5 linked regions of the Homo sapiens genome follow. The protein of the gene in region 3 interacts with the protein of the main gene of each other region in a pairwise test. Each region holds a gene or a part of one and is shown on either strand. Other genes may lie near its edges.

Region 1 (6,224 bases), on a different chromosome or scaffold from region 3:
AAGATAAGAAAATAGGTAAACAGCTGGCAAAGATCAGCTAAGAGAATAAATAAGCTAATACTATGCTTAGAAATAATTGTAAAAGGATTGAACACAGTAACTCACGAAATGTTATTTTCATGCTTTATACAATTGATTTTCAGTGGTGTTTGTTTATATAAAAAATGTAGACAACTGGTTAGTGGAAAGTAAGTCATTCTGCCTTGCTTTATTTAATTGCATGTATTTTTTAACATGACCAGTGTAGAATTAATCCATAGAGGAAAACTAAGCCAGAGGACATTCTAATTTTCCATAGCAAAGAACTGATAATATTAAAAATCAGTGTCAGTTTCTGAGTATCAAAAGAAGTATTTTAGAGTAAACCTCATAAAATTTTTCATCAGACCAAATCGTTCATGTCAGTTTGAGTTCCTTTAAATAAGTTTAGCTGTACATTTTTGGAGCAGCTAGTCAAAAGGATGGACTATAAAAGTTAGGCGTGTGTGTGTCTAAGGTATACTTTTTTCCTAATAGTAGTCTTTTTCAAAACTTTAAGCCATTTCATCCAAATATGTGGATAATTTCAAGTAGATAGTGTAAATTAAAAAGCAAAGAAACACGAAAGTAGAGCTTTACAATACAGTTTTGCTGGCCTGGTATAAATACGAGGCACAAGAAGTGTGTGTATTTATTTATTGAAGAGTGGTTTCCTAGTGACTATAGGTAGTCCTCTAACATACATTATACCGTGACACCCCTAAACTGTCTTACCTTAGATTTGAAAAACAGGCGATGAGCGTACGTTTCAGGCTGTCATGTGGTAGACTCTGCCTGCTGTCAGCAAGCAGTTTAGTGTTGACTACATCACTGTCATTCTGCAGCAGAGCTGTTGGAGGTATCTGAATACTTTATTTTTTAAATTGTTGAAAAATAGAAATGAAGATTCAGTAATGCGCCGTTAAGATTGGAAATCTTTAGGTATCCTGAGTTAATCTTACTCATTTGGAGAATCATTGGTTTTTAAGTTTAGTTAGCCTCATATTCATTCATGAAGGAAAAAAATTAAAAAGCAGGATGAAATGCTGAAAGTATAAAGTGTAACACAGAGAAGTTTATTAAGGATTTAGTTCTGGAAACAGAGCTCTTCCATTATAGCGGTCTGGCTGTTTCCTGGTCCAATCGGAAGTGACAGTTTCATAATGATTTTATTAACTCTAAGATTATAATAATTTACTCTTTTTCCTTTTTACGCCAAATGTTTCCATGTCCACCTGCAGCAGAAGATATTACTACTATCAGGGGCTTTGACTCCTTTGATGAAAATGATGATGTTAATGTTAACAGGACATGGCAAACTTTTTCTGTATAGATCCATATAGTAAACATTTTCAGCTTTATGGGATCTACAACTTATTTGTTGCACCTACTTATCTCTGCCATTGTAACAAGAAAAGTAGCCATAGGCAGTATATAAACAAGTAGATGTGGCTGTGTTCCCATAAAGCTTTATTTACAAAATCAGGCAGCCAGCCTGTGGGCCATTATCAGGCAACCCTGATAATGAAATTAATAATGATAAGGTAACATTTATTAAGTACTTACTGTGCGCCAGATACTGTGTTCACTCTACTGTGTTGGGTGCTTTAATAGTTATTTCTTTGTCTTCTCAACAACTCTTTGGTAGATACTTTTGTTATTCCCAGTGTCCAAGAAGAAACAGGCTAAGCAGTTAAATAATGTGCCGAGATCTCATTGCTTACAAGTGGTGGAACTAGAAACTCGAAAATTAGGCTGTTTAAGCCCAAATCCTAACCTATATACCAGGTTCACTTTCACCACTTACGTGTATAGAATGCATTAGAGTTTTAGATGCTTAAGCATGTATGGTAAGAATTAATTTTATGTGTTCATGTTTGTAGCTATGGACATTTTGAATTATGTCGGGAGAGCTGATGGAAAAAGAGGCTCCTGGAGGACTGGTAAAACTGAAGCCAGGTAAAGTCCAGTTTAAATTGATAAATGTAATCAGACTTCCTTCTATCCTGCATTTTCATACTGACAGTTTCTTTCTCAGGAATGAAGATGAAATGTATAAAATTCTCTTGAATGATTATGAATATCGTCAGAAACAAATCCTAATGGAAAATGCAGAACTTAAGAAGGTTCTTCAACAAATGAAAAAGGAAATGATTTCTCTTCTTTCTCCCCAAAAGAAGAAACCTAGAGAAAGAGTAGATGATAGTACAGGAACTGTAAGTGGCTCTTTCCTCTCTAATACAGTCTTCAGATTGCTAATAAGAATAATTAAAATATGTGGTAGGCATTCTCAATGGGGACACTATTGGTATTTTGAATAGGACACTCAACTGCTATGCTACTTTCAATTACTGTGACAACTGAAAAGACTGTTCCTATGTGTTTTCAGACATTTCCTGAAAAATGCTGGAGATGATTTTCCGGGGAATTAATACATGTCAAGCACTGTTAAGAAGTGCTTTATAAGCATTGTCTCATTTTATAATATTCCTCATAACATATGAGATTATTTCATATATTATAATTTGATGATTTAGATACTATAAATATCCCCATTTTATAGATAAGGAAACTAAGGCATAATATTTAGTAGCCCAGTATCACACATGACAGTGCTAGGATTTGAATCCAAGTTTCTCACTCCAGAGCTCACAATCATAACCACTATGTCAAATATCCTTTCAGTTGTTTTAGTATTATGTACTCTACTTTTCACAGAGTGAAACTTCTGTTAACTTTGGGAAACAAATATAAATTTATTGGGTGTTCTTTATGTTCTAGTCTCTGGAAAGGAAAGGCTAAAAAGATTTTGACTTTTTCCCTCAAGAAGCTCTTTTTGGGAAAGACAGACGTGGAGAAGTGATTATTACATGTGTTAGGTGCTGTAATAAGGTGGTACAATGTGCAGAACAGAATAGTTATGGCAATCAAGGCATCACAGAGAAAGTGACATTTTCACTGCTTCTTAGAAAATAAGTATTTTTGAGGTTAAAAAAAAAAACATGGAGAAAGCATTCCAGAGAATGGGAGTAATATATGCAGAGATCTGAAAAAAAAATCACATAATGGTGAAAAGTTCATTTTACTTAATTGCTTTACGTATAAGTTAAAATCGTAGGTTTCAGCAAGTTCACATTAGTGATAAAAATCTGAAAATAATGTTGATGGAAAATGCTAGTTAACAGCAAGATACCAGAACTTGTTTTTTAAACCTGTATTTGAGGATTATTTATTTTGTGGTATCACAAATCAGTCCAGCTGATAAGCCCATCCCAGCACTTACCTTTTTTTCTCCTTAACATTTAAAAAAAAAAATTACCTAAATTTTTTTTTTTTTTTTTTTTTTAAGAGACGGAGTCTTGCTCTGTTGCCAGGCTGGAGCGCAGTGGCACAATCTCGACTCGCTGCAACCTCTGCCTCCCGAGTTCAAGTGATTCCTCTGCCTCAACCTCCTGAGTAGCTGGGACTATAGGCAGCCGCCACCATGCCCGGCTAATTTTTTTTTTTTTTTTTTTTTTGTATTTTAGTAGAGACGGGGTTTTACCATGTTAGCCAGGATGGTCTCAATCTCCTGACCTCGTGATCCGCCTGCCTCAGCCTCCCAAAGTGCTAGGATTACAGGCGTCAGCCACTGCGTCTGGCCTTTTTGAGAGAGAGTTTTGCTCTTGTTGCCCAGGCTGGAGTCCAGTGGCACCATCTCACCTCACTGCAATCTCTGCCTCTCGGGTTCAAGCAATTCTCCTGCCTCAGCCTCCAGAGTAGCTGGGATTACAGGCATGCACCACCACCCACGGCCAATTTTGTATTTTTAGTAGAGACGGGGTTTCTCCATGTTGGTCAGGCTGGTCTCAAATTCCCGAATATCTTTTACATTCTCCATTTTGAGGCCTGCTTGACCTCTTATATGTAGTTAACCTCTTATCTCAAACTCTGTCACTTCTAGTCAGTTCTTAGCATTCACTAATACTTCTTCAAGGTTAGCATAGTGTCCATTACTACTGCAGCATCTTCAGTTTTTGGTCCAACCTTAACGTCTCATCATCAGATTTCAGTTAGCAAAAGTATGTGGTAAGTCAGGGAGATCTTTCTTCAGTGATTAAACCCTCCTCACCCCCATTACTCAGCCAGTGGGTAGTATCCTGTATAATTCTTCATAATTCACATGTTTAAGTGGATGAACAATGACCTCTTAAATATATATTCTAGTTTTAAAAGATCCATTTTTCTAGCTCCCTTTTCTCTTTAATTTTTGTAGGGAAAGATTTTTGAAGCATTATAGCAAGAGAAATAAGATGTAATGTTGGAATGCCTAGGTAGCATCCACATTTCATTTATTATTTGACCTACTTACTTGTAAAACATATACCGAAAATTCAGGTAAAATGAGTTTGTTGTTTTGTTTTTTGGTTTTTTAGAGGCAGGGTCTTGTTGCCCAGGCTGGTCTCGAACTCCTGGGCTTAAACAGTCATCCCACCTTGGCCTCACAAAGTGTTGGGATTACAGACATGAGCCACTGTGCCCAGCCGAATTTTTTATTTTCATTTTGTGGTTAGAGAGTTCTGTTCAATCTGAGAAATGTGCAATAATTATTCATTTTTCTTTCTTTTTTTTTTTTTTGAGATGGAGTCTCACTCTGTCGCCAGGCTAGAGTGCTGTGGTGACATCTCAGCTCACTGCAACCTCTGCCTCCCGGGTTCAAGTGATTCTCCTGCCTCAGCCTCCTGAGTAGCTGGAAGTACAGGCATGCACCACCACGCCCAACTAATTTTTGTATTTTTAGTAGAGACAGGGTTTCACCATGTTGGACAGGATGGTTTCGATCTCTTGACCTCATGATCCACCCACCTCTGCCTCCCAAAGTGCTGGGATTACATACAGGCATGAGCCACCGCGCCCGGCCAATAATTTTTCTAACAGATTGGTAGTATTCTAATAGGCTTTAAAATGTTCAGAAGAGAAGCTGTGCTTCCTTGGAAGAGTTACTGGCAAGTAGCTTTTGAGTATTGGCAGGGGCTAGAATCACCATGAGCCGGATCCTGGGCCATTCCCCTGTCTGCTCCGCCTCAGAGACCCTGACCTCTGCTAGCCCATTGCTGACCTCAACTACTGATAGAGTTCTTCAGACTCAGTTGCTCCCTCATCCTGCTGATCTCCATGTGCGAGCAGTCGAATCAGCCCTTCTTTCTTTTCATCTTTTATCTTTCTTTTTTCCCCAGCAAGATTTTTATTGTTCAAATTAGTGAAGTATATCTCTCTGCCTTCCTGAATATTAATGACAAATTAGAACTACTTTATGTAGATGTGGGTTATTATGACATATATCCCTTTTAGTATTGTTTCCCCATGTTCTTTATCCTGCTTTGATTCTGTGTGATCATATATCAGTAAAGTTTGCTACTTCTTTATGATTTCATGTTTGGCAGAATACAAAGAAAAGTATCTCCCGTTATATAAAAAAGTATATGAGGAAAATAGAATTAACAGTTGCTTTTATTAAATACTTCAGAGATTATTTCACAAGTGCATTTCTTTAAGCAGCCTAGGATTAGAAACAAGTTGATCTAATGTCAAATATCAGTTCTGCCTCTTAGTTGTAATGCTGCTTCTCTAAACCTCGGTTTTCCCACATTGTAATGAGCTGAGGGTTAAATAACGTGAAAACATCCAACACATTAGACAGGTAGTGATATCTCCTTCTCAGACAGCTTCATGACTCTTGTCATTAACTGTATTTGGATTCAAATTCAGGTTTAGAGAGAGCTGAATTTAGGAGTCTCATTTTTTTTCTCAAGACATTTAAATACTGGGCCATATATGCATAAGACACAGCACAGAAATGATTTTGATGTGGCTTCCTCTGGTAATCAAACTGAAGACTACTTGCCTGAGCATCTAAAGCCATTGTAAGGTACTAGCCTTTCCTCTTCATCTCTCTCCGCTTGTAGGTTATTTCCGATGTTGAAGAAGATGCCGGGGAACTAAGCAGAGAGAGTATGTGGGACCTTTCCTGTGAAACTGTGAGAGAGCAGCTTACAAACAGCATCAGAAAACAGTGGAGAATTTTGAAAAGTCATGTAGAAAAGCTTGATAACCAAGGTAACCACTGCTTCTATGCATGTAAAGTGAGTTGTGACATTTGGTAAGGTGTTGATTTTTAGTCACTTAGAAAGCCGCATTATAGGCTCAGAGCTAAAGTACTATACTTC
Region 2 (6,224 bases), on a different chromosome or scaffold from region 3:
CCTGGCTTCGCGGGAGGTGGACGGCTGGCGGCAGCTAGCCCTGCGCAGCGGCGACGCGGTCTTTTTGGTGAACGAGGGCGCAGGGTCTGGAGAGCCGCTGTACGGCCTGGATCCGCGTCACGCCGTGCCCAGCGCCACAAACCTGTGCTTCGACGTGGCGGACGCCGGCGCTGCAACCCGGGAGCTGGCAGCGCTGGGCTGCAGCGTGCCTGTCCCTCCCGTTCGCGTGCGGGACGCGCAGGGTGCCGCCACTTACGCCGTGGTCAGCTCGCCTGCCGGCATCCTCAGCCTGACCTTGCTGGAGCGCGCTGGCTACCGCGGACCCTTCCTACCCGGCTTCAGGCCCGTGTCCTCTGCGCCTGGCCCCGGGTGGGTCAGCCGCGTGGACCACCTGACCTTGGCCTGCACCCCCGGCAGCTCCCCCACACTTTTGCGCTGGTTCCACGACTGCCTGGGCTTTTGCCACTTGCCGCTGAGCCCAGGTGAGGATCCCGAGCTGGGCCTCGAAATGACAGCAGGGTTTGGGCTTGGGGGACTGAGGCTTACAGCCCTGCAGGCCCAGCCGGGCAGCATTGTCCCCACTCTTGTTCTGGCTGAGTCCCTTCCGGGGGCGACGACACGACAGGACCAGGTGGAGCAGTTCCTGGCCCGGCACAAGGGGCCAGGCCTGCAGCACGTGGGGCTGTATACGCCTAACATTGTGGAGGCCACTGAGGGGGTGGCAACTGCTGGAGGCCAGTTCCTGGCTCCCCCTGGGGCATACTACCAGCAGCCAGGAAAGGAGAGGCAGATCCGAGCTGCAGGGCACGAGCCTCATCTGCTTGCTCGACAGGGGATCCTGCTAGATGGTGATAAAGGCAAGTTTCTGCTTCAGGTCTTCACCAAGTCCCTTTTTACTGAGGACACTTTCTTCCTGGAGCTGATTCAGAGGCAGGGGGCCACTGGCTTTGGTCAGGGCAACATCAGAGCTCTGTGGCAGTCCGTACAGGAGCAATCTGCCAGGAGCCAGGAAGCCTAAGGATGCCCAGGGCTGGGTGCAGCCAGCTGTCCTGCAGCTCTGGGGAGACCAGCACAGAACTGAGGAACATCTGCAGGAGGCCCAACTAGTGAAAGGCTTTGCCTCCGGGGGGCAGGTGTGACTTCCATTTCATCAGTGCCTGCCAGAAGCTGTGTCTCTCATTGGGCTCCAAAGAGGTGGGATTTTTTAAAACTAAAACATTTCTTATATACAGTCTATAATAAATATGTAAGATACAAAGAACAATAAAAGAATTACACACTAGGAAATAGAACATAACCAATACTTTCGAGTCCTCCCTGTGTCCCGCTGTGATTCTATTTCCTCCCACCCACTCCTCAAATCCTGTCATTATTAGCCCTTTGCTTTTCTGTATTGTTTCACTCCGTATGTAACATAACCCTAAATAAATTATTTCGTATTTGAGGTAGGAATTTAAAACAGAACAAATCTTCTCCTGTGCTTCCTCTCCCCCTAGGGAGCGACCACTCAGGTGGGGAGGGGCTGGGTGAGAGTTGAGCCCAACTACCTACTCCAGAGTGATGCCACCACTCCAATTAGAGCTGACCTGAGACGTAAACAGAGGGTGTTGTGTGTCAGCCACTGGCAGGTTCTCCCTGTAGCTGCCTTGCCTTTCTCCTGGGGGTTGGAGGGCAGATCAGTCTGGACAGAACACCCCCACTCCAACCCCATCTGCCCGGGGCTGGCTGGGAGTTCAGCCAGAGAAAGTCAGAACCAAGCAGAACGTCACCACTTTTCTGGGTCCCTCCCTCAGATATAAGGGGTGAGGGGGCTAGGGAGAGGGTGGAAGGCTGTCCAAAATAGCTACAAAAGGGCGGGCGTGGTGGCTCATGCCTGTAATCCAAGCACTTTAGGAGGCTGAAGTGGGAGAATCACTTGAGGCCAGAATCACCTGAGTTCGAAACCAGTCTGAGCAACATAGCGAGACCCCCATCTCAAAAAAATACAACATAAAATAACTACAAAAATAAGCACTTTACTAACAACAGGATTCTCAGGGAATGGGGGCTTTCAGAGGTGTCACTGGGCTGCACTGTTGAGGCTGTGTGCATCAGTGGAGATGTGAGACCGAAAGAAATTATCCAGGACTTGCTGGCCCATGCGGGGCTTTTTCCGACTGCACGGAGAGGACACCTGGGACCTTTTGGAACCCTGTGAAAAAATGGAAGGAGGGAGGCCTTGTAGTTGGGGGAGGGGGAGCAGAGAATCCTCTCCTTGTCCTCTCTCCCTTTCCCCGACTCTACTGATCTAGCTAGGCTTAGCCTGGAATGCTGTAGAGCTTTCATCCTGCCTCAAGTATCTGCCCCATCAATCAACCCTCCAAAAGGCTGCCTGAGGGAATCGAATTGTCCTAAAAATGCAAATCTGACTCCTCTCTCCTCCACCTAAAATGAGTCAGCAGCCTAGGGCTCACACCCTGACTGACCCAGCAGGCCCTGCTGACCTTTCCAGCTAAACCAACTGCTCACAGCTCCTTGAGCACTGCAGCCTGCACTGGGCTCCACCTTTGCTCACACTACTCTTGGGACTGGAAAGAACATCGCTACGGTTGATTCCCCTCCCAAACCTGAAGAAAAGGATTCATTTCTAGGACGAAGATTACCAGCTGCTTCCTCCAAACAGCCTTTCCTGATCCGTCTCCCAATTAGAACTGATAGCTCCCATGGATGGGTGTGGTGGCTCACGCCTGTAATCCCAGCACTTTGGGAGGCCAAGATGGGCAGATCACTTGAGGTCAGGAGTTCGAGACCAGCCTAGTCAACATGGTGAAACCCTGTCTCTACTAAAAATACAAAAATTAGTTGGGTGTGGTAGCAGGCACCTGTAATCCCAGCTACTTGGGAGACTGAGGCAGGAGAATCGCTTTAATCCAGTTGTGGGAGATTGCAGTGAGCCGAGATCGGGCCACTGCACTCTAGCTTGGGTGACAGTGAGACTGTCTCAAAAAAAAAAAAAAAAAAAAAAAAGAACTGATGGCTCCACAATTCATATCCCACAAAACTCAGTACAGGCATTTCACACACCTGTGACACTGGAGAGTCCTCATCATTTTTTTCCTTTCCCTCTACCCTGCACCCCACAATGGAAGGTCTCCAGGTCAAGAACTATTCCTCCCTCCAGTGAAGCCTGGAGTGGAGAATGTTCACCCAGACATTCGTTAGTTAACTGACTAAAAACCTATGGACTCAGGCCTGGGGAGACACGGTTGGGAGAGGCCTAGGAGACTTACCATACAGGTCCCTGGCTGTTGGCCCTGATACACACGGAAAACCTAGACAAGAAGACAGGGAGGTGAGGGCTGGCACTTTTTGCAAAAGAGATAAACCGGTGTTCTGCCCTTAACTTCATGTCCCAGTACTTTTGTTTAAAATATGCTTTTTTGGCCAGGCATGGTGGCTCACGCCTATAATCCCAGCATTTTGGGAGGCCAAGTCGGGTGGATCACTTGAGGCCAGGAGTTTGAGACCAGCCTGGCCAACATGGTGAAACCCCATCTCTAAAAATACAAAAAATCATGGCTGGGTGTGGTAGCTCACACCTGTAATCCCAGCATTCTGGGAGGCTGAGGCGGGCGGATCACTTGAGGTCAAGAGTTGGAGACCAGCCTGGCCAGCATGGTGAAACCTCATCTCTACTAAAAATACAAAAATTAGCCAGGCATGGTGGCGGGCGCCTGTAATCCGAGCTACTCAGGAAGCTGAGGCAGGAGAATCACTTGAACCCGGGAGATGGAGGTTGCAGTCAACCGAGATAGCGCCATTGCACTCCAGCCTGGGCAACAGAGCGATTCTCCGTCTCAAAAAAAAATGCTTTTTTTCCTGTTTACACAGTAATATATTCATGTAGAACATGTAGGAAACACAAGGAAGTACAACAAAGACAACAAAGGTAGTGCCTTTTTCATGGCGGTGGAAACAGCTGCGGTGTGAAATTCCTCCTGCGTCAGCCAGCGAGCACCTGGTGGTACGGTGGTCACTGGGGTCTGCCCTTCCAAGGCCAGCCCATATACTTGATATGTCAGCTTGATGTGAGAGAAGGTGTGGACAACCTGGAGGAAGGGTCAAGGGGTTCAAATAGGCCTGTGGATATAGCCTCAAAAGCCAACATCCTTGGCTATTCCGCTGCTCACTTACCTCCCCAAGGTGCCGGAGGTGCGTGGCTGGGAGGGGCCCAGCCCAACGCTGTAGTTCCTGCAGCAGGGCCTTGCGCTGAAGCTGCTCTGAGGGCTCCCAGGTCACGGACGGGAACTCCCACAGTCCTGCCAGCAGACCTGAGAGGGAGGGCAGCCAGGCAGGGGTCAGGCCTCAGCTGCCGATTCCCTCCATTCTCTCTTGTTACTCATGCCACTGCCCTCCACGCCCAGTATCCAGGTACCTGAGTTGGGCCTCTGCACCAGCAGAATTTGGGCCCCAAGGGCCCCAGGCTGTTCCAGAACACAGGTGGCAGAGCTCTCCTCCCTGGGGGGCTTGCGGCTGGCCTTTCTGGGGAAGTTGACCACTCCCAGGGTCTGGTCCCAGGGCTCCGAGGGAGGCAGGCACAGGTGGCACTGTCCAGTGTTGGGAGCTGGGAACGGAGATCCCCGAACCCTACTCAAGCCAAGAGGGCTTTAGGGGCCAACCTAGAGAGTGGGCTTTGGCCGGGTTCTGCAGAATCTTACTCAGGTTAGAGGAAGAACTGGAATGGGGCTTCTGACTGGGCCAGGAAGGGTTGGGGTGGGGGCTAGGTTTGGTGCTCACCACACTCCTCCACGTCAGGACTGCCCGACAGGCTCCCTGAGGCTAAGAGCTGTTCCTGCTCCACCTGAGAGGCACAGGGTTGAGTGTCATAGGGCAGAGTCACTCCTTAGGACTTCTCACTGCCCCTTCCCCAGTAGGCTTACTCTCTGGCGTGCCCGGCACAGGCTCTCCACAGGGCACTGGCTGCACAGTGGGCGCTGTGGGGTACACACTGTGGCCCCTAGCTCCATGGCTGCTTGGTTGAAATCTCCTGGCCGGGCTGGGTCCACCAGCTGCTGGGCTAGACCCCTAAAAGAAGGGAACACTGCTGTGAAGCAGAGCTCCTTTGCAGACACCCCTGAAGCACCCTTGTTACCCCAACATCCTACCAGAGCTGCTGGGAAACAAGGGTGCTGCTGGGATCAGCACCAATGGCTCGGACACGGCACAGCACCCGTGCTACGTTGCCATCCACCACACCGGTTGCCTGGCACAGAGGGGCCAAAGAGTTAGCCTGGGCTGGGAGGAAGGAGGCTGGGCACGCACAAAGTGGGGGTGGGCTGTGAGATCACCTGGCCAAAGGCGATAGAGGCAATGGCCCCAGCTGTGTAGCGCCCCACGCCAGGCAGGAGCTGCTGCAGGGTCTCTGCTGTACGTGGCATGTGGCCCCCTAGCTCCTCTACCACCTGATTGGAGTGCAAGACTCAAGATTATAAGACACCCAAGACTCCTGGGTTCCTACCCTCCTGCCATCCCCTTACCTTCCGAGCTCCCTCCTGCAGCCGCCGGCCACGAGAATAGTAGCCCAGGCCAGCCCAGAGTTGATTCACCTCCTGTGGGTAGGATCAGAGGTCAAAGAGATCACCCGTCAGTCCCTCTATTGTTCCTATTTCCCCTACCCTAGGGTGGCTCTCACCTCCAGGGAAGCACTGGCCAGGTCCTGCAGTGTAGGCCACTTCTATAGCCACAGGCAGGCAGAAAGAGACAAGGTCAAGGGTGAAGGTGGTAGAGGAAGCCTTCTCTACACCCACCCCAAAGTAGAGGCTCTCATCTGGGGTCTGACCCATGACCCTTCCCTTCCTCCCCTGGAGTCACCTGCATCCATCCGGTATAGTAGTTGATCACAGTGGCAACCTGGGTCTGCTGCAGCATGACCTCTGAGACCCACACTGGGGGAAAGGGGTTGGCATGAGGACACTGCTGACCTGCCCCTACCTGGCCCACAGCCCCCAGACCCAAGGGCCTCGAGGCAAAGTGGCCCTGCTCTCAGGAGATGTACTGACCAGCATATGCCCGCCTGTCCAGGTCCATCTCATCTTCTGCCTGTCAATGCAACCCCAGATGAGGAGTTAGGGTGGAGGGGGCTGGGTGCCTGCCTCCCACCCACTGTCCCTGCTCCTCGCCTGCCTACCCGTCTTCTCCATGGTAGGTCCCGTTTCTCTTGGTCGTACCAGCTTAGCAGGCTCCCT
Region 3 (6,224 bases):
GTAAGGCAGTGGGCAGTACAGGGTAACTGGAGGCGGGGCCAGGGCCTCAGCGCTATGGAAGAGTGTCCACTGAGGCTGCACATGGCCCAGGAGTGGCACCATGTTGCAGGGACAACCATCCCCATTTGGCTTCTCCTTAAAACACAATTGCAGCTGCATTCTGCATCGCTGAAAACTGCAATATAATATTAAATCTGTTGGTCTATGCATGGCTGCGTATGTGTTTCTTGGAACCTGTGTGACAGGGACATGTGCCTGGCACACTGGCCAGAAGACTGGGCAGCCACCATGGCAGTGCTGGATGACCTCAGTAAGAATGTGTCATGTATTCCAGGTGCTGATCTAAAAACTGTGGCTCAAATGTCACCGAGCTTATATGAAGCTCCCAGAGAGAACATTTAAAAGCTCAGAGAGTAAGTGCTGGGGAAAGCAGAGCTATCAGAGGAAATCTCTCATAGAAACGAAACCAAACCAACAGAAAATGAAGAAGGCCACATCTTTAAGGCCACCTCTGCCTCTATCAGATGAGCTGCTGGTCTAGATCAGGGGCTGGCAAACTTTTCTGTAAAAGGCCAGACAGTAAAAATTTCCGATTTTGCAGGCCACATAGTGTCTGTTGCAACTATTCAACTCTGCCATAGATCATGTGTAAAGGAATGGGTGTGGCTGTTCAATAAACTATACAGTTGACCCTTGAACAATATGGGTTTGAACTGCATGGCTGCACTTATATATGGATTTTTTTCAACCATACAGGTTGAAAATACAGTATTGGCAGGGGGCGAAACCTGCGTACATGGAGGGCTGATTTATCACATACGTGGGTTCTGTAGGGCCCACTGTGGGACTTGAGTATGCATTGGGTTTTTGTATACTCAGGCGTTCTGGAACTATCCTCCATGTATACCAAAGGATGGTTATTTCTACAAAAGCAGGAGGTAAGCCCAATGCACAGCTTGCAGATTCCCCTCAGGCGAGAGACAGAGGTTAAGGGTAGATGGCAGATGACCTAAGTGGCTTGTTTTAGGAGGCCACTCCCAGGGCCACAGCTTTCATGTGTTTGCCACCAGGGTAGAAGGTCTGCTGACAAGGGCAATGACTACTAACAGCCCCAGCTGCATGGAACAGAAAGGGCATATGCTGTGGCCACCAGGCTCAGGCTCTATCCCTCAGCAGCTTTGGGATCCCATGCAGCTCACCTATTTTCTGTGCTCTAGCATCATCCAAATCAGAATGTCTCAGGTAAGTGGTAGACAACGTGACTCCTCCCCTCCCGCTGTGAAGTGTAGACGGCTGCCACGGTGGCAGCGGCCAGAACTGAAGTTCCCGATTTCTCTGTTTCTGCAGTCTTGCCATGCTTTCTCTGTATAGTCACCCCAAACCTACTTTTACCGAGGGCCTGGGAAAATGCCAAAGGTGCTGCTCACATAAGCACTGGCCCATCCTCATCAGCATCAGGCCCTGGCTCTGGGCTCACAGGCTGTCGCACATGCTGCAAGAGTTCCCTAGGTATGCGTGGCCGTCGGGCTGTGCACTCGCATTCCTCTTTAAAGCTGTCTTGCATAGGGCCTGAAACTTTCCTGCTCCCCTTGTCTTGACATGTGACACAACAGGCTGTGAATCCTTGTCCTTGACAGGCAGGGCAGGTCAAAACGAGCTGGCGGCACTGGGGAGTAGAGCAGAGTTTATACTGGTCCCAGCGGGCTCCACAGTATGAACACTCTGGGGAGGAAGGAAAAGCCATCATTATAAACACATACATTCACACACACGTGGACAGGCATTGCTCCCTTTGCTGACTAGAATCTCGTAGATCCTGTGGAACCCGGGGAAGGTTTCCAAATAGTAAGTCTTCTGTCTTCTAGCAACAACAACTAACCACCACCCCCACCACCCAGCTTATTTTTTTGTGGGGGTGACTTCTGGTAACTGTCTGCTTCCAGTATTTACTGACTTTTTTTTTCTTTTTCCCATCTAGAGAACAGGTGGTAACTAGATGGTAATGAAAGTTTCTCTCTCTCACCAGCTATTCCAAAGCTGGCCAACTACCTCCCAACCCCCTTGTTAAGTGGTCTTTTCCTCTTTGATTGTTCCCTTTTCCAGGGGGGACAACACACCTAAATACAGGCGATAACCCACCTACAGTGAACATGCGCAGTCCACACCCCTCTCCCCGAGGCCTGTGTCTCTCCTGCTGTTGCTAGGGCACTTGACCATCTGATTCCTAAAACTCACACCATCTTCTTCACCTGTTTTTCCCTGATGACCTCCTGTTACTATTGATAACATCATTCTTCCTCACTTTTCCTTACCTTGCTTATCTAAGCTACCTCTGAGCCTTCCCTCTCTCCTTCATACTCACACGCAGGTACCCATCGAGTCCAGCCAATATAACCTCTGTAAAATCAAATCTACTCTTTCTACTTGTTTAGAATTTATACTCCATCTAGCTCCAAAACAGATCGAAGTAGTGATCAATAAGAGACAACTCAAAACCACTAAAATGAAAATAAGACCAAGAAAGTAGGAGAGGACAATCAAACGCAAATCTTACTCAAATGTGCATGCCACCTGGGTCCACAGAGAGCTATGAGTTCCTAAAATCATGTGTGCTACGGATTTACTTGGTAGTCTGGTGAAGACTATAGATCCTGGCCTAGAAAAACTTTTTTGAGACAGGGTCTTGCTGTGTCACCCAGGCTGGAGTACAGTGGCATGATTTAAACTCACTGCAACCTCAACCTCCCGGGCTCAAGCAATCCTCCTGCCTCAGCCTCCTGAGTATCTGGTACACACCACCATGCTCAGCTAATTTAAAAAAGTTTTTGTAGAGACATAGTGAGCTATGTTGCCCAGACTGGTCTCAAACTCCAGGGCTCAAGTGATCCTCCTACCTTGGCCTCCAAAAGTGATGGGATTACAGGCATGAGCCTCTGTGCCTGACCTAGAAAAATATTTTTAAATGCATAAAATATGTAAGATTACAAAGGAAACCAACTATACAGAAATACAAAATATCAAAGTCTTTTTCAAAATCTGTAATATATAATAAGACGTGCCATTTATTAACACATTATATATCAACTCTTAGTGGTGGGCCTAATAACTATTTTCATTTTGAAGCAGTGATGAGTATAAATACTATTTTGAGATATCTGAGGCAACTAGAACATGATATGAAAGTATTGTGAATCCTACTGAAGACAAAGTCACAGGTACATTAATACAACTGGTACTTTGTTGCCTACATTCATAACTAAAGGAAATGCTTCATTTTAGTGAGGTGTTATTGAAAACAAAGATACAATTATTTTTCCATCCAAATTCACAGAATCCCTGAAATCTATGTACCAATTCCAGGTTAAGAGCCCTGAATTAGCCCAGTAGTACAGCTCTTGGCAGGTAGACAGGCAGGCAGGGCAGGTGAGATGATCCCCATGTTAATGGGCTTGTCCAGCTAGCAATGGTGAAGCCAGGATCCCAACCCAGGCCTCCTGACTCCTGGGCTAGGGTTCTCTCAGCTCCACAGCTGGGAAAATGGTGGCACAATGTACTTATTTTCCCTGCTTATTCAGTGCTCAGTAATGAGCACTGGCCTGTCTTCCCTGTGTCATTTTTCTAGAATAGTGAACTGACAATGTGCTTCATTTCAGTTTGGGCTCTGAGCCTGTGCTGACCTACCTGACACCACATCACTGTTGTAGGACAGAGCATAGCGTTCATCAAAAACAAACAACTTCCCTTTGTAAAAGCCATCAGGAAACTCTTCCAGGTACTTGTGGATGCCACCCTTGAGCTGGAACACCTCCTTGCACACTCCCTAGGTGTGGAAAAACAACAGGAAATCTGAAGAGCCAGCAGAGACCTGTTAAGATGCTCACGGAAGAACGGCGCATGGCGAGGAGTGCTGACGTAGAGGACTCATGGCCGCTGCTATCAGTCAGGGGCTCCTGGCTCCCACTGCGGGACACTGAGGAATTGCTGACCAAGGGGTCAAGGCACCAACTGGCCAGATCTTGCCTCCTAGGGGGATGGGTGATGACAGCAGGCAGGGCCTTCACCCTCTAGATCCTGGGAAGCCCAACTATTTTTGCTGCCCCCTAAATATAGGAAGACACCTGTTGGGACATGTAATGTTACTGAATTTGCTCTTCTCAGGATCAAGCAAAAGGATCAGGAAAAGGGAGATGTTAACTAATCTCTCCCTTTTACATCTGATGAGTCTCTATGACTGTTAAGTGTTTTTCATATCTTGAGATTAAAGACCCTCAGATTTTGTACTTACGAACTCCATGCTGGAGCCATACGAGGGGTGAAGGCATGCTTTGGCTGCCTGGGGGTGGGGAGTACTGGGGGCAGCGGACAGCTCCACGTAAGCTGCTGGTGGAGCTGCCTCCTTCACTGCCATGCCCACAGTGCCCCGGGGTGGTGGCTCACCTTGGCTTTGAGGTAGGCTGAACCCCGCTCACAGCGGATGCCCCCGGTACAGTACATCAGCACTCTCTTCTCTCTGAAAAGTTCTAGATTTTTGTCAACGTAGCTAGGGAAGTAACTGAATTTCCTGATGTCTGGGGCTAAGCAGCCTTGGAATCGTCCCTGTAACATAGGAGCAACAAAAGGAAAATTATCAGAAAAACATACCTGGTAGGAACAAAGGTTCTTTTTGTACCCAACAAACCCTACTTAGCAAAGAAGCCCCTGCCAGTTGCTAATCTCATCCCCACTCTGACCTTTCAACTTCAAGATCTCAACTTAAAACCGAGGCTGTGGGCTGTGGGTCACCTTCCCAGGGTCCTCAGGGGAACTGGAGAGGCTGCCCAAAGGCAACTTTGCAAGATCCTTGATACATGTCAAAGGCAGGCTCATGGGAGTCACAAAGTATATTATGTGCCTGGATGCCTTTAATTCATATTTTCTTAGACTCTCTCACCAGATTTCTGAGTTTTAGGACTTGGGTTTTCTCTGAAGCTGCCAGTACTGGGAGGAGATCCATGTGGCCACAGGTGGGCACACACAAGGTCCCCTTGGGAAATATACCACACTGTGGGAATGGGGAGATCTACCAATTCAGAGAACTCAGTTCTGGCTTTTACTTACTATTTTGCTTTCATAGAAGTTTCTGCAATCAAGAAGGATAGTATCACTTTGTTCTTGATTTGCCTGAGATAAAAACTTTTCTACTTCTTTATGAAATTCACCTGGGGATAAATGGATTCCTAAAACCAAACCAAAAAAATTATATTAAAACAAAGACAAAAAAACCAAAACCCAATCATGACTCACCCAGCCTGACTTACGTGTTGCTTTGTTTCTTTCCACCCAAATCTCTTCTCTTCATAATTACAACTGTCTGAAAAGAACACTACTTGATGATCATGATGAAATAACTTAGTAATTCCAGTAATTCCAGGTATCCTCAATCTCCCTCCTCCTAAAATGAGGGCAATGGAGACCTGGTAGTTTAGAAATAACTAGTCAAAGAATTTTGCATCCTCATACTTGGCCTAACCCTAGTGATAAAAACCAGGCAACTGGGATCTAAATTGCCATGTGAATTTGCTGGTCCATTGTATGGTCACTGGTAGGTCAGGAAATGGCCACTGCTCTATTGTCACTGTACATGGAGGAGCTGGGCAAGTACGTGGCTGACTACAGGCTTTGTAAACTGTTCTATATTAAGGTCGAACCCACGTTGAAGGCTAAGAACCCACAGGCAGGTGTGAGCAAAAAGTTATGGAATAAAGTTGGAATAGATACATTTTTAATGCAAAGGAGCAAGAAGAATGTGTCTAAGTGTGTGTGCATGAGTAAAAGAGAAAAGGGCAAGAGGGGTGGACAACAGAAACGACATATGAGAAAGAAAGTAAAGGAGAGAAAAAGACAGGAAAGCTAGAAGATGGGTAAGTATTAAAATACAAGGGGAAGCCTGGGGAACATAGCGAGACTCTGTCTCTAAAAAAAATTTAAAAAATTAGCTGGCCATGGTAGTGTGTGCCTGTAGTCTCAGCTACTTTGGAGGCTGATGCAGGAGGACCCCTTGAGCCCAAGAGATCAAGGCCTCAGTGAGCTATGATCACACCACTGTACTCCAGCCTGGGCAATAGAGCAAGACCCTGTCTCAAAAAATATATATACAAAGGGACTAATAGGAGAGAACCTCAGTCTCCTGGGGCTCTTTGCCTTGTAACTCTCTAGGATAGAAATATTCCCCTATCTTTGAGGGT
Region 4 (6,224 bases), on a different chromosome or scaffold from region 3:
TTCAGATTTCAACTTTCTCAGACCCTCACTAGGAGAGTGCATGAAGGAGTGGTGATTCTGCCCAATTGTCCTGTTATTGATGAAAATGAGTTATTCTGATCAGTCTTCCAAGATGAGACTAGACTAAGTAGGACCTGGGAAAGAAAACCCATAACAAATGACTAAACAGCCTATGATTCAATATTGTTTTTATTGAGAACTAAAGATTACGTTGAAAGCAGCCCTTCAAATCTGCTTACCCATTCATAACTTAAATTTATTTCAAGTTCAATCTGCTTGCCTTGCTTTATGGTCAATATAAAAGTTAAAAAAAAAGACAGGTTTTGGTCAAATCTTTATAGAAACAAGTAAAAAAACTGATTCTTCACTTTGCAGGTCTAACATTTCAGGGGCCAACAGAAATAATTATGAGCTGCCTTCTAACCAGAAGAGTGGGGCAGAAATAGCAATATCATGGGTTCCAGAATGGTCAGTACCATTTTTTCAGAGTCTACATGACTTCAGTGTATCCAGGTGAAAACAAAAACTGTTCATCTTATTACTCAGCTGTTGAGCCAACATGTTACCAAGCGTTAAGAAATTTGGAAGCACTAGAAGGAATTTTTATTTCTTACTTGACATGTATATGTTGTAGGCCATGCCACTATAATTAAAATAAAATTTACTCTTCTTAAGGCCCCACAACAAAAAAATGGACTCTGCAAAAGTTTAGCATTTAATGAAGCTGTAAAGTAAAATTAGCAAATTATATTTTCTAATATTTTTCTGTTAATGAGAAGTCCTCCCTTAGATATAAGTAGTAAGTCAACTTGAAACAGTTTTGTTTAAAAAAATAATCTCATAACTTTACGCAGCCAGTTGAGGTCCTATGACTGTTTTCTAAGATAATTTAAGGAGAAAGGTCAGTCAAATCCATGACAGAATAAACATGAATCTTTTTACATCTTTCCTTTTTCTTAAAAATGTGCGTTGTTGGTGAAAATGTAAATTAGATAGCCATTATGAAAAATGGTTATGTAGCTTTCTCAAAAAACTAAAATTAGAATTACCATATGATACAACAATCCTACTTATGGGTATATATCCAAAGGAATTGAAATGAGGGTATATAAGAGATATCTATACTCCATGTTAATTGCAGCATTATTCACAACAGCCAAGATGTGGAATCAATCACGAATGGGTAAAGAAAATATGAGATATATATATATATGTGTGTGTGTGTATATATGATATACATACACACACACAATGGAATACTATTCAGCCTTTAAAAAGAGTAAATCCTGTTATTTGTGATAACATAGATGAACCTACAGGATATTATGCTAAGGGAAACATGCCAGGCACTGAAAGAAAAATACTGCATGATCTCACTTACAGGTAGAATCTATTATAAAAAAGTCAGACTCATAGAACTAGAGAGCAGAATGGTTACCAGAGGCTTGGGAAGATGGGGCGTGGTAAGGAATGGAAAGATGTTTGTCAAAGGGCACAAGGTTTCAGTGAGAGAGAAGAAATAAGCTTTTAATATCTATTGCACAGCAACGTATATATCAAAATTGCTAAAAGAGTAGATTTTAAATGTTCTCACCACAGAAAAGAGAGAAGTATGTGGTGACAGATATGTTAATTAGCTTGATATAATCACTCCACGATGTATACATACATCAAAACATGACATTGTACTTCATAAAAATATATAATTACTTGTCAACTTAAAATTTAAAAGATTTTTAAAATGTACATTATTTCTACAAAAATTATTTTCTCATCCCCAAAAATGAATAAGAAGAAGAGAGGAAGGAGGAGGAGGAAGAGAAGGAAGAATCCACCTACCTGCTACTGCAACTTTTGCTGTCCGACTAATAATTGAGCCAGAATCTCCTAAAGATGCCTCACATTGGTAAAGTCCCTCATCTGGCTTGTGGTGTCTGGAATGAAGTATGTTTTGTATCAGCAGAGACCCATTTGAAAGTTGCTGCTTCCTTTCATCCATTCCCAAGGCCAGATGAATGCCATCTTTCTTCCACTTGATCACTGGAACTCCTCGGTCGGACTCCGCGGAGCAGTCGAGGAGGACATTTCCTCCCCGCATTGTGACGGCATCAGAAGGTTCTGAGAGGAAGCGCAGTGCTGTGAAAGCTTTAATTTGAAAACCTGGAACAAGAGAGCACAGGGAAATATGTTCATGTATTCAAATAAATCTCAGGCTTAGATTCCCTGTCTTTTCTTTACAAAGCTTTTCACAAAAGCTGAGGGCTTTGAACAATGTCCAAGAATAAATAAAAACTAAAATCAAGGATATTATGTTAAATAAGCAAAAAAGTACCCAGTCGAGGTAATCATAATTAAGAAAACAATTGGCTCCAAAAGTTAATATTATGAGAAATTACAAATTCATATAAATCCTGGCATGCTTATTACCACATATCAGTCAGTACATGAAAATTTAGACAGAAAAAACTAATATTTTCCAAATAAAATTAGATATTTTAAAGTAGCAATAGTTATTAGTGTGGTAGCTAAGACTTTTGGGGAGACTATTTCTATCTCTTCATTCTGATTATGGCATCCATTGAAATTTTTAAAAAATCCAATCTGATACAGGGTTCTATAAGAATAAAAGTCAACTCTGAACAGCATGGGCAAAGTTATTTAGGACAAAGCTCAGGTGGGTTTTAAAATAGGTAAATCCCACTGGCAGAAGCAAGTCAATAAAGCTACTACCTAAAATCACAAATCCCTGAAGGGTCTTAATTTTCATCCAAATGTTTCTCATGGGCTTGGAAATCTAAATAAATATTACAGTTGAATTTGTTTCATAAACGTAAATGAACATAAAGAATCAACCAAGGGTAATAGAAATTCATTTAAGAATCTTGAGGGGAGGAAGCAAGTATAATCAGTTAAAGTATATTGTTTTTGAAGCTGGCAGTATAGCATTTGACAGAATACTCACATGTTGAGTCAAAGACCTTGACAAGGTTTCAGGAGGTCATTGGCTCCACCATTTGCTCAGACAGGTGTATACTTAAATCATTCAAGTCAAATTACTTTCAATTTCATTTTGAACAATCTTTGGGGCTAGAGATTCTACAATGTCCCTCGGTATCTTGTTTTCAATATTTAATCATTTTAAGAGTCTAACTGAATTTTCTTGCTGATGTTTAATCCCATTTTCTCCTGAAACACCTTGTGTGAAAATGCAGAAGAGATGGACATTTTCTTTAAGAGCCCTTTATTTGTTTGAAATGGCATTTCATTTCTTAAAAAATACCACCTAAATTATGTTTTAGTCTTCATTTTTTTTTTCCACGATAGCAACCTTGACTTCATTAGCTTCCTTCATTTTTCTGTAATGGGAACACTTTTCGTTGTACTTTGTAAAATCATTCCAATCTTCTGTCATTTAAAAGGCAGGCATCTAAATTGCAGGTAATCCATATTCTCATAAGGGGTTAACTCATACTGGTCCTGATGGACAGAACTATTTCTATCTTTGTACACCCCATTTTACAGTGAAGAGAAAGCAGAACAGCTTCTTACGGTTTCTCCCTGGTTTTATTTGCTTCGTTCCTGCATACTCAATTTTTCTAAAACTTACGTTTGAAGTCTGTTATTCTGCCCAATGATGTCTTGTGTCGCTCACTGTCATATATTCATTCCTTTCACCTTGGCCACTCACTCAGAAAGCATCTGGAACTTTGCTTGAATTAATATAAATTGTAAAATAATGGTGAGCACATAACTCTATTATAGATGGATATTGATAAAGATCCCAGATGACAGCAGCCTGGTGTCTTTATTTTCAAATAAGCTCCTTCTCCCCACAGATCCTTTTGGTGTAGTCAACCCAATTATAGTACATCCTGTTCTTCTAGTGGGAAGTACATTGAATTGGCTGTCTGGATATCTAGCCTTAGGTCTTGGTTTTATCACTTCAAAATTCATGACTCAGAAAGGTCTTTTAAGCCCTCAGAAACTCAGTTCCTTCATCTGCAAAAATTAAGAAGTTGAACTAGATGATCTCTAAGTTCAACATCTAGTTTGGAGGCTTTTAGAACAAGATTGAATTGAGAGCATCTGTCAAATGAACCCTGCTCTAAGCTTGCTGAATCACTTAAGGCTGATTTTGCTGAAAATACCTTTCCCATGTCTACGTGATCTCTTCCTCTACCAGAAAAGAAACACAAGCTAGCAAACCTGGCTTGAGAAACACTAAGGATGAGACAGCAGAAAGAAGTTCTAATGTCCTTGAATGCCAAGATATTTCGCTAGAGTAATACCCACAATTTCCATACAAGTAGCATTAATAAAGAAGAAATAAATTTGAAATTCAAGAGCAGGCAACTATATTAGAAAGCATGTATTGCTTTTTTGTTCTTCCTGGGGCCTATATTTTAAACACAACCTCATGTTAAGCACCTTATTTATGTCACAGAACACATAATACATTTAACACAGCTGTTTATGACAGCATGTTAATGAGCATATGTGCCCATTATCACACATAAATAATCCACTTAGTCTGAAACAAGGAGATTATGACAGTTTTCAGTGCTGTGAGTACATAGATCAACTTTAACACAATTACCCTTGCAGTTCAATGGCAATTTGAGCTTTTTGTACTCTTTATAACAATTATATTTTGAATATATGGCTTTGGGATATAGGCACCTCACTGCTTTAAGTAACTTGCATTAGTGATTAGTTTTATAGAAAAGATGGATCCTGGTGAATCAAGTTAATTGAGAAATAGTAGATATGATTCTATTGGTCTCCTTTTCTAAGTTTCAGCTCATGTTAGTGACAGTGGCAGGAGGCAGACAAATTCCCAGGCAGACAGGGGTGGGTCCCCAGTGAAACCCAACCTTCAAGCCGAAAAAAGCCTAAAGCCTGAAAACTGGGCTGCTGGTTCTGAATGGAGTCTGTGACCAGAGTGAGAACTTCTGTTCCTGTTTGCCTGTTCTTTCCTGATTGGTTCTTTCTGAATAATTCTTTTTTTTTTCTTTTTTTTGGGCGATGGAGTCTGGCTCTGTCTCCCAGGCTGGAGTGCAGTGATGCGATCTTGGCTCACTGCAACCTCCGCCTCAGGTGACTCTCCTGCCTCAGCTTCCCCAGTAACTGGGATTACAGGCATGCGCCACCACACCTGGCTAATTTTTGTATTTTTAGTAGAGATGGCCATGTTGGCCATATTTGGCCAGGCTGGTCTCAAACTCCTGACCTCAGTTGTTCCACCTGCCTCAGCCTCCCGAAGTGCTGAGATTACAGGCATGAGCCAATGGGTCCAGCCTGAATAATGCTTTTTAACCAATCAAATATTGCCTTTTCCATGGCTACCTACAGGCTGCACCTCCCACATTCTGAGCCTATAAAAACTCCAGACTCAGCCACACCTGGGGACTACCCACTGCAGATCGCCTCTCCGCCCAGAGATGTTCTGTCACTCAGTAAAACTTTTCTCCACCTTGCTCACTCTCCAGTTATCCAAGCAACCTCATTCTTCTTGGATGCAGGACAAGAACCTGGGACCCATTGAACATCAGGTGCAAAAGGAGCTGTAACACTGTAGCCCTCCAGCCCTCCACTGCTGCCCGAGTGGCCACCCAAGACGACAAGAAGCTGCAGTGGGGCCGGGCCAGCCCAAGAGCTGTGGGCCAGAGTAGTGCAGCAGGACTGAATGAGCTGTAACACAAAGGAGCCGAAACACACTCCTGCCCACCCCTTGCCCCGTTCACTGTGCTGCATATGGCAGGAAGGAGAGAAGAGCTGCAACCCTTCTGGAGGTGCAGACCTTGGGACTCCCGGAGCCAGAGCTCTGACACACCCTTGTTTGCTGGGCTACGGGAACAAACAAACGGTGACATGCTGTAACACCCTTTTGGGGCTCTGTGGTTGTTGGCGTCTCTAAGTTTTTTGGGTGTCACCGTGTTCCCCCAGTCCAGACACCAGCATCGAAGGCAGAATTTGCTTGCAGTATGCCTGGTCCAGCTGCCGCCTCACAGGGAACCAGCGCCTGTGCCGGCACCTAAAGCTGCCTGCCGCACTGCAGCAGCTGGCGCACCTGGCTCTGTGCGGTGGTGGCTGGATTCCGCACTCACTCACTCACACACCCCTCACCGCTCCATGCCTGGCACGCCTATGGTGGGCGTGGGATCAGGGGTCGTAGCACGAGCCGACCGCAGCCTGTCAGACTGAGTGGGCAGAACCAGCTCAGC
Region 5 (4,534 bases), on a different chromosome or scaffold from region 3:
CGGGTTCAAGCAATTCTCCTGCCTCAGCCTCCCGAATAACGAATTACACTTGCCTGCCACCACGCCTGGCTAATTTTGTATTTTTAGTAGAGATGGGGTTTCACCATGTTGGGCAGGCTGGTCTTGAACTCGTGACCTCAGGTGATCCACCTGCCTCGGCCTCCCAAAGTGCTGAGATTACAGGCGTGAGCCACCACACCCAGCCTATGTTAACTTCTTTAACCCACTCTGCCTCCCTGCCGTGGCCTTCATGTTTGTATTCACACACTCCAGCCTGTCCTGGAGGCGGGTCCCCAAAGTCCCGTGCTCCCAGTGGAGTTTCCTGCTCCCAGGACCCCCAGTGTTCTCGGTGGGTCACTCCATCAGCTCTTGAACTCTCGGGAATTAGTGTGAGTTTTCCCCAGTGGGCCACTTGTTTTTGTGGAGGACCTGGGTCAGGGCCCAAAATCAGGGGTGGGTGTTGGACCTGCCACTGCAGTGCAAACGGGAACCCAAGCTTGTTCTTTTGGTTCTGCTGCAGAAGCAGAGGACGTGTAAGAGCTGCATCCATTGCTGGAATTGCCTGTAAGGAATGGGGGATGGGGAGCACCTCAGACCTGGGAAGGAGGGCACCGCCAGGCTGCTGGGGCATCCTTGAGCTGGTTTTGGGGTTGCCCATGGAGGAATCCTGCGACACTGTGGGGAGAGTCTTGCTGACGCACTGCCGCACAGTCCTGGGGTAGGAGCAGCTCCAGGGCGCACAGCCTCAGCATCGGAGTGGCTGTGGCTGCAGCGGGGCAGCGGGGCAGCAGTGGTGAGCTGCCACACCAACATCCTGGAGCTTGGTGCTCGCCCTATTTATTGGGCCTCTCGCCTGTGGCTGAAGCCCCTTCCAGGTGTTAGTTCAGAACCAATGATGGAGGCTGGGGGCAGTGGGTAGTGTTACCACCACAGAGCCCCTCACCCTCGGGCCAGCTACTTCTCACTTCAGCCTCAGTTTTGTCTTCTGTAGAATGGGGCTTCTCACTGACATTATCTCAGAGGGTGGCACTTGGGATTGAATGAGATGGAGCATGCAGGGCCCTTTTCATGTTACCTACTTCGTAAGTGCTCAGCAAATACCTGTTAGGAACAACCTCTGGCAATCTCTGCGATCTCTGTGTTCTGTTTTCCTCTTTAGGAAACATTTAAATCTTCAGATAAGTATAAATCTGGAAGCCAATTATTTTTTTACAAAAATAGCTTGAGTTTTCCGAGCTCAGATTTGCATAAACCTAAGAGAGTTTGTCGCCCTGCTTCCCAACTAACAGATTTACTTTTCCTTTTCATGGACAGGGCTGCCGGTCACTTGCTGCAGGGCACCCGGGATATATCAGCCATGATAAAGAGACCTCCATTAAATACGTCAGCCACCAGCACCCCAGCCACCCCCAGCTCTTCAGCATTGTCCGCCAGGCCTGTGTCCGGAGCCTGAGCTGTGAGGTGAGCCTTGTGGCCACAGAGCCTGTCTCTGTGGGAGCCCACATGCTCCCAGGTGCTCTGGGTGGGCTCGGAGCCAGCATTGCACAGGGAGGCAGGCACTGGTCCTCTCTCAGGGCGGACCCGCAGATCAGCACAGCACAGGGTACAGGACGCCTCCCTTGTCCAGAATTGCGGGAGGAGTCATGTTGGACTTGCTGAGCATTTTCTGATTGAGTGCTAGCTTTTGCACTTTAAGCACCGAACTTTTATTATTTGTCCTTTCTTTATTATTATTGTTTTCTTTTTTCCTTCTTTTGTGTCAGGGTCTCGCTCTGTCGTCCAGACTGGAGTGCAGTGGTGCCGTCATGGTTCACTGCAACCTCAAACTCCTGGGCTCAAGCGATCCTCCCGCCTTAGCCTCCCAGGTGGCTGGGACCACTGGTGTGTGCCACCATGCTCAACTGGGGTTTGTTTTTTGTTGTTGTTAAGACAGAGTCTCACTCGGTTGCCCAGGCTGGAGTGCAGTGGTGCAATCTCGGCTTACTGCAACCTCCACCCTGGGTTTAAGTGATTCTTCTGTCTCAGCTATCCTGAGTAGCTGGGACAACAGGCGTGTGCCACCATGCCCGGCTAATTTTTTGTATTTTTAGTAGAGAAGAGATTTCACCATGTTGGCCGAGCTGGTCTTGAACTCCTGACCTTGTGATTTGCCCGCCTCGGCCTCCCGAAGTGCTGGGATTACAGGTGGGAGCCACTGTGCCCCACCTTTTTAAAATTTTTTTGTAGAGATGAGGTCTCAGTATGTTGCCCAGGTTGGTCTCGAACTCAAGCAATCCTCTGGCTCATCCTCCCAAAGCACTAGGATTACAGGTGTGAGCCGCCATGCCCAGCCATGTGTGTCTATTCTTGATGGATGTATTCCTAAGATAGGAAGCATTTCTAGGTTAGGTGGTTCATTGCATCAACATCACCTTTTTTTATTATCTCAGTCCTCATTCCAAGTCTCAGTGATGATCCCGTGCTGCTCTCAGCCTGCTGAGGTGTGGATGATTTCTTCCTAAACTACGTCGCTGCTGCTGTTGCTCTTGACTCTGAGCTCAGGTCTTTGTTACAAAGAATTCGTCGTTCAGTTACTAAACTTCCTTGTCATTGGTGTCCACCCAGTTCGACACACCAAGCTCCCTTACTGTTCTCATTCAGTGTGGCTGTGTGCCTGCCCTCAACTGTCCTCTCCTTTTAATTTCCTACCGCTGGTCTGCTAGCAGGCAGCTCGGCATGTCTGTTAGAATTGTGTGTTAAGGAAGAGTAAGTATGTAATGAGGAGGGACTGAAATCCTCTTATAAGAATAAAGTACGTGGGGCTGGGCATGGTGGCCCACTCCTGTAATCCCAGCCCTTTGGGAGGCCAAGGCCGGCAGATCACCTGAGGTCAGGAGTTCGAGACCAGCCTGGCCAACATGGTGAAACCCCCTCTCTAAAAAAAATACAAAAAAATTAGCCAGGCGTGGTGGCACACTCTTACAATCCCAGCTACTCAGGAGGCTGAGGCAGGAGAATTGCTTGAACCCAGGAGACGGAGGTTGCAGTGGGCCAGGATCACACCACTGCATTCCAGCCTGGGTGACAAGAGCGAGACTCCATCTCAAATAAAGAAAGAAAGAAAGAATAAAATGTGCGGATTTCAGTGCAGGGAGAGTGCAGTGGCTGCTCTGACCTGCTGGTTCTTCTGCATGCTCCAGGTGAGTAAGCTGGTACATTTGAGTCTGGGAGAGGTGTGACATATGCATGGGAGTTATTTATGGCTCAAGGTGGAAGAAAAGCAATAAGCCTTGTTACCGGCCCTTGCAGTCCACAATGACAAGTGTTGTTGGAAGCTTGATCACAGGAGCAGAAGAGTACAGTCTTCGGCTCTCATGGCCCCCACTGTGCCACTCTCCCCGTTATTAACGCTGGCTGATTTGTGCCAGCTGACTCTGAAAAGTCTGAAGAAGAGGCTTTGATTTGGTGTCACTAAGCGAGGAAAGGGCTGTCTGAGTCGCCGGTGTCCCTCCAGGTCTGCCCTGGCCGTGAAGGCCCCATCTTCTTCGGAGATGAGCAGCACGGCTTTGTGTTCAGCCACACCTTCTTCATCAAGGACAGCCTGGCCAGGGGCTTCCAGCGCTGGTACAGCATCATCACCATCATGATGGACCGGATCTACCTCATCAACTCCTGGCCCTTCCTGCTGGGGAAGGTCCGGGGAATCATCGATGAGCTCCAGGGCAAGGCGCTCAAGGTGAATTCAGAGATGAGGTGCCGGGGCGGCAGGGGGCCCTGCACTGCATGAGCCGCTCTGTGCTGAGGTTGAGGCCTGGAGACCGCGTGGCGTCTTCCCCTCTGCTTACAGCCAGTGCACTGTGTGAATTGTAGTCTCTTGGCTTCAGAGCTGGAGGTCGTGAGGAGCCTCCCAGGCCATCCCGCCTGCTTTGCTGGTCTCTCTTGTGCCCGTTGTCCTGGTTCTCGCTCAGCTCTGGTTTCTTTGCTGCAGTCAGACCCCTGGTGTCTTTGTTTCCTCTGGCCTTCATCTCAGGGATGTCTGTTAATCCCATTGAGTTGCACCACCGAATGTAGGCCTCCAGCTGTGGAGATGCAGCTCAGGCCAGGCCAGGCCAGGTCGTGCTCTGGTAACAGCCTCGGATCTCAGCACCTTCAAGCCATAGGGCCTGTTTCTTACTCATGGTGTGTGCATTGCAGGAGAGTGGGGCTCTGCTTGCTGTGGTCGTCCTGGCAGGCAGAGCGGCAGCCATATGAAAATGCTTCCCCTAGGCTGGGCGCAGTGGCTCACGCCTGTAATCCCAGCACTTTGGGAGGCCAAGGCGGGCAGATCACCTGAGGTCGGGAGTTTGAGACCAGCTTGACCAACATGGAGAAACCCCGTCTCTTCCAGAAATACAAAATTAGCTGGGCATGGTGGTGCATGCCTGTAATCCCAGCTACTTGGGAGGCTGAGGCAGGAGAAACGCTTGAACCCATGAGGCAGAGGTTGTAGTGAGCCGAGATCACACCATTGCACTCCAGCCTGGGCGACAGAGTGAGACTCCATCTCAAAAAAAAA

The links.
Region 1: the proteins of TSTD2 (region 3) and SSX2IP interact in binary tests that used the Homo sapiens proteins (3 or more experiments, as listed by UniProt).
Region 2: the proteins of TSTD2 (region 3) and MUTYH interact in a two-hybrid assay, tested with the Homo sapiens proteins (one large-scale study listed by BioGRID and IntAct).
Region 4: the proteins of TSTD2 (region 3) and DCC interact in a two-hybrid assay, tested with the Homo sapiens proteins (one large-scale study listed by BioGRID and IntAct).
Region 5: the proteins of TSTD2 (region 3) and FLCN interact in a two-hybrid assay, tested with the Homo sapiens proteins (one large-scale study listed by BioGRID and IntAct).

Annotation. Positions count from the first base shown.
Region 1 is NC_000001.11:84,658,208-84,664,431, reverse strand, and holds part of SSX2IP (afadin- and alpha-actinin-binding protein), read left to right. Parts: coding exon 1-15; intron 16-1,901; coding exon 1,902-1,977; intron 1,978-2,056; coding exon 2,057-2,234; intron 2,235-5,963; coding exon 5,964-6,114; intron 6,115-6,224. UniProt on the Homo sapiens protein: Belongs to an adhesion system, which plays a role in the organization of homotypic, interneuronal and heterotypic cell-cell adherens junctions (AJs).
Region 2 is NC_000001.11:45,327,247-45,333,470, forward strand, and holds the end of MUTYH (adenine DNA glycosylase), read right to left. Parts: coding exon 6,167-6,224; intron 6,079-6,166; coding exon 6,039-6,078; intron 5,925-6,038; coding exon 5,851-5,924; intron 5,714-5,850; coding exon 5,672-5,713; intron 5,589-5,671; coding exon 5,517-5,588; intron 5,442-5,516; coding exon 5,328-5,441; intron 5,243-5,327; coding exon 5,145-5,242; intron 5,065-5,144; coding exon 4,920-5,064; intron 4,841-4,919; coding exon 4,777-4,840; intron 4,604-4,776; coding exon 4,415-4,603; intron 4,311-4,414; coding exon 4,174-4,310; intron 4,089-4,173; coding exon 3,936-4,088; intron 3,312-3,935; coding exon 3,270-3,311; intron 2,823-3,269; coding exon of another isoform or gene 2,820-2,822; exon of another isoform or gene 2,643-2,819; intron 2,192-2,642; coding exon 2,060-2,191; 3' UTR 1,996-2,059; downstream 1-1,995. Other genes in the region: HPDL (4-hydroxyphenylpyruvate dioxygenase-like protein), read left to right, coding at 1-1,018. UniProt on the Homo sapiens protein: Involved in oxidative DNA damage repair. Initiates repair of A*oxoG to C*G by removing the inappropriately paired adenine base from the DNA backbone. Possesses both adenine and 2-OH-A DNA glycosylase activities.
Region 3 is NC_000009.12:97,601,046-97,607,269, forward strand, and holds part of TSTD2 (thiosulfate sulfurtransferase/rhodanese-like domain-containing protein 2), read right to left. Parts: intron 5,217-6,224; coding exon 5,098-5,216; intron 4,597-5,097; coding exon 4,438-4,596; intron 3,821-4,437; coding exon 3,682-3,820; intron 1,723-3,681; coding exon 1,424-1,722; 3' UTR 1-1,423.
Region 4 is NC_000018.10:52,747,990-52,754,213, reverse strand, and holds part of DCC (netrin receptor DCC), read right to left. Parts: intron 2,161-6,224; coding exon 1,840-2,160; intron 1-1,839. UniProt on the Homo sapiens protein: Receptor for netrin required for axon guidance. Mediates axon attraction of neuronal growth cones in the developing nervous system upon ligand binding. Its association with UNC5 proteins may trigger signaling for axon repulsion.
Region 5 is NC_000017.11:17,223,103-17,227,636, reverse strand, and holds part of FLCN (folliculin), read left to right. Parts: intron 1-1,314; coding exon 1,315-1,461; intron 1,462-3,125; coding exon of another isoform or gene 3,126-3,179; intron 3,180-3,493; coding exon 3,494-3,715; intron 3,716-4,534. UniProt on the Homo sapiens protein: Multi-functional protein, involved in both the cellular response to amino acid availability and in the regulation of glycolysis.